2 linked regions of the Homo sapiens genome follow. The protein of the gene in region 2 interacts with the protein of the main gene of each other region in a biochemical or structural test. Each region holds a gene or a part of one and is shown on either strand. Other genes may lie near its edges.

What was found.
Region 1: the proteins of SGIP1 (region 2) and DAB2 form a complex in vitro, tested with the Homo sapiens proteins (one study listed by BioGRID).

What each region holds. Positions count from the first base shown.
Region 1 is NC_000005.10:39,383,301-39,387,106, forward strand, and holds part of DAB2 (disabled homolog 2), read right to left. Parts: intron 1-3,806. UniProt on the Homo sapiens protein: Adapter protein that functions as a clathrin-associated sorting protein (CLASP) required for clathrin-mediated endocytosis of selected cargo proteins.
Region 2 is NC_000001.11:66,733,092-66,736,897, forward strand, and holds part of SGIP1 (SH3-containing GRB2-like protein 3-interacting protein 1), read left to right. Parts: intron 1-656; coding exon 657-789; intron 790-3,806.

The sequences.
Region 1 (3,806 bases), on a different chromosome or scaffold from region 2:
AGTGTTAGTCCATGTTGTGACTTCAAATGAGAAAATTACATAAGATGACTAGGATTATCAGAATTTCCATTTGAATTTGGTCTTGATAAATCGGTTGATCATTACCTCCTTCCATCAACCCCCGTAGTCCATTACTCCCTAGCTATAGACTAGGTCCTTTCTATTCCTCCCCAATATCATGCCCTTTTATTTAAGTCTCAACCTCATTAGGTGAAATCTTACTGTTGCTTACTTCATGTCTCTGCTCACCCTGGTTCACACATACAGACTGGCTTAATTCATTATGAGCATTGTTTCAATTTGTGACTTTGAAAGTCTTAAAGGGAATTGATTGTGAGTCACTATAAATGATTATCAAAGTATGTTGAGCTTGAAAGTAAGTGATTTCAGAAGCTTAGCTCAGCTTCCTACCTATACACATACAGTCCTCTCTATTGTACCCCCAGAGTCATGTAGGATCATCTCTCTAAATGAGAAAATTCATCGACTAATACATTCATATTTTATAGTTCTGGCTGTGATGAAATTTAAGATCAAATGCATTTCCCTAAAATCGGTCCAGTTCTTTCCTCTAGAGGTGGGAGAGAGGCTTTTCTTTTATATCACGGCCTTCAGGTATGTCTCTTAATATTTAAGGCTCTTGCTGAAGCTGATAGTCAAGTAGGATCTCATCCTCATCATCCCAGTCTCTCCTCTGGGCTTACCCTTTTTGTCTATGTCCTCTGAAAGAGACACTCAATACTGATCTAATTTAGTCAATCACACATTAAGATCTCCTATTTGTACATCTTTTCATAACATTGCTTAGAGTTGCCTGTGTTGTGACAGTAATCTCATCTATTTAGTGGTTAAAGTCAACCAACAACTGATCTTTAATTTATATACAGTAGTCCCTCCTTATCCTCAGGGAATATGTTCCAAGGCCCACAGTGGATGTCTGAAATGGCACATAGTGCCAAAACCTATATACAGTATTTTTCTCATATACATACACATGATAAAGTTTAATTTATCAATTAGGCACAATAAGAGATTAACAAGTAATAAAATAGAATGATTATAACAATATGCTGTAATAAAAGTTATTTGAATGTGGTCTCTCTGTCTCTCTTCTCTCAAAATATTATATTGTACCGTACTCACTTATTTTCAGACCAAGGTTGACCACAGACTTAATTTCAGAAAGTGAAACTGCAGATAAAGGGGGACTATTGTACAAGGTAGAGACATGGGTTTAAGAGTTAATTTGAAAGACATATCAAATATGTAGCTCTACTAATTCTATCCCCTCTCTATCATTTCTCTGGTGTGTTAATTTTTTGGATTTTCAACTGTTTGATAAAAAATTCTCAGCTTAAAAGCAGTAAATTTGATGAATCCGACATGTCTTTATTCCAGTAAAAGACAGAATTATAACTCATCCTAGAACAGAACTTTCATACTGACATCACTTCCTTCTGCTTGACTTTGATCCATTAAATACTTAACTATGCTACCCAGAGAAGAATATAAATGATAAAAAATGCCTTGCTGAAGTGCAAGTTATAGTAGTTATCTTGCATTACCCTGAGCAGAATACTAAATATTTTGATCATTGGGGAAAATAAACAACTTCAAGGGAATATAAAATTTGCAAACTAGTAAATACAAAAGGGTTCAAATAGAACTCCTTGGCTTTTAAAAGAAAAAAAAATACCCAATTGTTTAGAAAGTTTAAGTCCTATTTCATGGCCACAAAAGAGACAGCAAAATCAGACCTAAATGGTAATCTATCTTTTGGATTCCTTTACTGTGAGGCATAAAAATACAGTTTTTATAAGCCAAAGCCAGGCTTTCTCTTTATAAAAGAAGAATTTGTCACAAGAAAGAGCTTATAATTAAAAAAAAATTTAATCAGAGAAATGGATTGGAAGAGCTATTAATCTAGGGATCTTTATACAATCAAAAGGTAGGATAAAATGTATTACAAAAGCTTGTGATTTCAATATTTATTTATTTGTTTTGAGCCACCTCTGGGTTAGAACAGTTGAGTGTTCACAGCTGGTAGAGTTCTCGTTTTCAAATACTTCAGAAGAAGTTCTTAGGACACCAAACAGGAGCCACAATGTTAGACTTCTGAATAGTCACCCTATAAGTAAAATGTATAAGGCTCTCCTCAGGCTGGGTTTGTTATTAATCCAAGATTAAAAGTGTAGTTCACAGACTACAACTGAGAGCCCAAAGACTCCTCATCCACCCACTTGGTCAGCGCCTCATTCATTCTTTGTCGAACTGTCAACACTGCCTCCAGTTGGCCACTGTTTGAGCACCTGAGCCGCACGCACTGGAGACACGGCAGTGCGTTACAGAACCTGCTCGTAGGGAGCTCCAGTAATCGGACATAAATCCTGAGTTCCATAGCCTAGCTCTTCTCTGGGTGGCTAATCTCACCTAACCATTCCAGTTTGTCAGACTGAGGACTTCTCTACTCAAAGCCTTAAGTGGCTTACTGCTGGCTCCCTATATTAAAATAAACCTCCTTAGGCCAAATTTCCAAATGATCCACAATAAGACCCACGTTGTTTCTAGCCCAACTATGATCTATTTTCCTACACACTTCAAAGACCCAACTCAAATTCAGATTCTTTACAAAGCTTTTAGCATCGATTTTTCTGTCTGCACTTGCCCTGTGCCCACCCGTGTTATCTTATGGCATGTACACAAGGACATAAGTGACACTCCTGCTTTGTATCCTGATCCCATCCCTTGTACCAGATTTAATCTCCTTGATCACAGATCATGTCTTATATTCTTTCCATAGTAACTGTGCTTTCAAGTGGTTGTTAAAGTTGCAGAACATGGGTTTTTATGTTTTTCTTTCTTTTCCTTTTTTGAGATGCAGTGTGGAAGGATAATGCTCAAGGGGCTTGCCAATAAAAATTCTGTTCTAGGGGATACCACATAGTTTGCAACATGAGCATTATTTGAAACTCATAAAACTTTTCTGTATAAATTTGAGGGGAGTGACAACCATCTAGGACCAATAATAAAGTCTAGGTAATTTAGATTTCTTTCTCTCTTTACATATTTCAGAGCAATTGTTGAAAGAGTTGAATATTTTTAAACATGCTGGCTTTACCAAGTAGAGATAAATCTATTTTTGACCTATGACTATAGAGTCAATAGATAAGAACATGTCAAAGCCTAACCAGCACATAATTAGATCTGTTAGCCTTCTTTTGGTTATCAGAGAGTATATATTTTGATGGTATTTATTACTTTATTGTTAGTTTAACTAAAACTTGAATTCCTATAAATAAAAAATTCTTAGACTTCATAAAGTCTAATAAAAATGAGACTGAAGATTATCCATGTTGTTTTCCATTTCCTTTTTTAGAACATTCTAGAAGTCTACAGAAGTAGATTATATAGGCAGTACTTCCTTGCCTATTCCAGTGGAATTCCACTTCATATCTTGAGTGCTTTGCTCTCTTTGAATATTACTTGTTTGAATGTCATTTATACTTGGGAAGTAAGTGTTCAGATACTGATTTATTTGAGAAAACATCACTAATGGAGGAGAGCACAAAGTTGACTACAAATCAAAAGGACCTCAGAGTTAGGATGGACCTGTCAGGATAATCTAGTCTAGTACTTTAAAAAGTTTATCCTCAGAACTATAACAAAAATTATGAAGAATGAAAGGTTCTATAGGCAAGTGAGTTAGGGCTCACTGCTAAAATGAATATTAAACAGGCTTCTCTCTTAAAGGCATTTTAGAATGCTACCATGCATTGTGATACTCATATGGTTAGGGTCAGAGAAGA
Region 2 (3,806 bases):
AAACTTCTTAGCTTATAGAGACTCTGCTCTTCTTCTGTATTATAACTACCAAAATTATCATTTAAACTCCAGGATCATCTTATAAGTGAAGTGAAATCTTTGATGATTTAAATGCTCATGGATGAAATATTATGAATGCTGAAAAGGCAGCATGGTAATTTTAGTATCACTCTTTTCTGCTTAGTTGGTGATAAAGACCATGTTTACATTTGGCCAAATATTTCACTGGATAATTTCTGAGAAACTACTGGTCAAAGTAATTCAAAAGTAAATAAACGTATTCAGTTCCTTAATTGCCTTAACTGACTAATTTAGACAAAGCTGGTTTCATAGAAAGGGATATTAAGTTTGAGTTAATAAATAATTCACTCTTTAAAGCTCCCAATTATCATCGCAATTAGTTAATATTACTGAGCACTCACTGAGATTGATAGCAACACAGTAGCTCCTCCTCGTGGATATTAATCTACCAACACCATAGCATTCAGAACTGTATTTGTATGAAAACCACACTACTGTTAATAGATTCATAATAATCTCTACAAATTGTCAAAAAATGGCTGTACATATCAGACGACAATTTGCTAAGATGCTTCGTGTAGGGTTTATATTTGTTTTAAGATGCTACTCAATCATTTTTCTTCCCAAATGAACAGTGATAATACACAAAATGATGCCAATACCAAGGAATTCTGGGTAAACATGCCAAATTTGATGACTCACCTAAAGAAAGTGTCTGAACAAAAACCCCAGGCTACATATTATAACGTTGACATGCTCAAATATCAGGTAAGCCTATTTACATGATCGGTATCTCTTCCACATGACATATTTGTTTTCTAAAGTACCTACTATTGAATAAAAGTAACTAAAGTAACACTTCTTTTAACAGTATTTAAAAGCTATAACTCATTTTTTTAAATGGAAACTTTAAAAGATAACTTGGGGACTACTGACAAAAATATTCATACATATTCTTATTAGTTTAAGCTTACAAGTAAAATATTTTATCACAAAATTAGAGAAATGTGCCACAAAAAAATGAAGTTGCAAAACATTATACTAATTAAGATTATAAGTTTATATTGATAAACAAGATGATTATAATTTTGTTAAGAACATTACTATACTAAAACCTCTTATTTTAAATGATTCAAGGTACACAATCTGCTTTTGTTTTTCTAGTAAGATAGTCCTATGAAAGAATTCTAATAAAATCTAACACTAAGAAATAGTTCAATAATAAAGGAATGTTTGATACTTACAATATATGAGAACTTTCTTTTTGTATCTAGAATTGCCCTTATCTCAAATTATTATTGATATACTAAATAAGCCTAATTCATACCAGGATCCTGATAGTGCCTGAGTCTCTCATTGGTTCCCAGCCACTTGACTGCCTAGATTTTTTTGGTTTTTTTTTTTTTTTTTGAGACAGAGTCTCACCCTATCACCCAGGCTGGAGTGCAGTGGCACAATCTTGGCTCACTGCAATGTCCACCTCCTGTGTTCAAGCGATTCTCCTGCCTCAGCCTCCTGAGTAGCTAGGAATACAGGCATGCACCACCAAGCCCTGCTAATTTTTTGTATTTTTAATAGAGACGGGATTTCACCCTGTTGGCTATGCTGGTCTGGAACTCCTGACCTCAGGTGATCCGCCCGCATCAGCCTCCTAAAGTGCTGGGATTACAGGCATGAGCCACCACACCAGCTGACTCCCTAGATTTTTTTAAACTTTTTTATTTTTTAAATTGACAGGTACAATTGTATGTCTGTATTAGGTACAACATGATATTTTGAATATATGTACGTTATGGAATGACTAAACTAACATACGTATTACCTCACATAGTTATTTTTGTGATGAGAACACTTTCCATTCACTTTAGCATTTTTCAGGAATACAGTATATGGTTATTACCTACAGTCACCACCTTATGCAATCAATCTCTTGAATTTATTCCTCTCATCTAACTGAAATTTTGTGTCTTTTGACCAACATCTCTCTAAACAAACCCCCACCCCACCCCACCACCACTACCTCAGCCTCTGGTAACCACCATTCTACTCTCTAATTCTATAAGATCAACTTTTATTTTTATGTTATTTTATTTTATTTTATTTTATTTTATTTAGTTTTTTGAGATGAAGTCTCCCTCTGTTGCCCAAGCTGGAGTGCAGTGGCACGATCTCGGCTAATAGCAACATCCACATCCTGGGTTCAAGCGATCCTCCTGCCTCAGCCTCCCAAGTAGCTGGGATTACAGGCATGCACCATCATCCTGGCTAATTTTTGTATTTTCGATAGAGACGGGGTTTCACCATGTTGGCCAGGCTGGTCTTGAACTCCCAGCCTCAGATGATCCCCGTTCCTTGGCCTCCCAAAGTGCCACTGTGCCCAGCCAAGATCAACTTTTAAATATTCCACATAAGAGTGAGATCGTGTGGGCCGGGCGCGGTGGCTCACGCCTGTAATCCCAGCACTTTGGGAGGCCGAGGCGGGTGGATCATGAGGTCAGGAGATCGAGACCATCCTGGCTAACAAGGTGAAACCCCGTCTCTACTAAAAATACAAAAAATTAGCCGGGCGCGGTGGCGGGCGCCTGTAGTCCCAGCTACTCGGGAGGCTGAGGCGGGAGAATGGCGTGAACCCGGGAGGCGGAGCTTGCAGTGAGCTGAGATTGCGCCACTGCAGTCCGCAGTCCGGCCTGGGCGACAGAGCGAGACTCCGTCTCAAAAAAAAAAAAAAAAAAAAAAAAAAAAAGAGTGAGATCGTGTGGTATTGGTCTTTCTGTGCCTGGCTCATTTCATTTACCACGTTTTTAATGCATTATAATTTTTTATTAAATATGTTCAGATTATTTTTCTTCAAATGAAGGAAGTTGTACTTTAATAAAAATCAGGACATCTCAAACTTGACTGTATTTCTCAATCAAATGCTGGTTCTGAATTGATGCTAAAAAGAAATATATGTGTATACATATTTAAATAATATAAATATTTATTTATAATATTTACATATACAACCTAGATACATATAAAACCTATACAATCTATAACATATAAAATAACACATTATATTCATAAATATAAATATTTATACAAATATTTTAAATATAAATATTTATACAAATATTTTAAATATAAATATTTATACAAATATTTTAAATATAAATATTTATACAAATAGTTTAAAATATTATATAAAATATGCAAATATATAAATATGATATATGTGAATATAATACGATATATTATATGTGAATATAATATGATATATGTGAATATAATATATAATATATGTGAATATATTATATGTGAATATAATATATTGCGTATTATATGTGAATATAATATATTGCGTATTATATGTGAATATAATATATTGCGTATTATATGTGAATATAATATATTGCGTATTATATGTGAATATAATATATTGCGTATTATATGTGAATATAATATATTGCGTATTATATGTGAATATAATATATTGCGTATTATATGTGAATATAATATATTGCGTATTATATGTGAATATAATATATTGCGTATTATATGTAAATATAGGTAGAGATCATTATTAAATATACATATATGTATTTTGGGGGGTGTTAGGACCTAGCAGATATATATATTAAATATACTTTTTAAATTTTATTTAATTGGTTTAGAATGCCACCCAGGTATCTGTACTTTGTATAAGTTTCTCAAGGGAGTCTATGCATCCTCTGCTTTGGAAAACATTTATTTAAATTGTTGTAAGAAAACCATTTAAAGTGAAATATCTATAAAATGGTGTATTT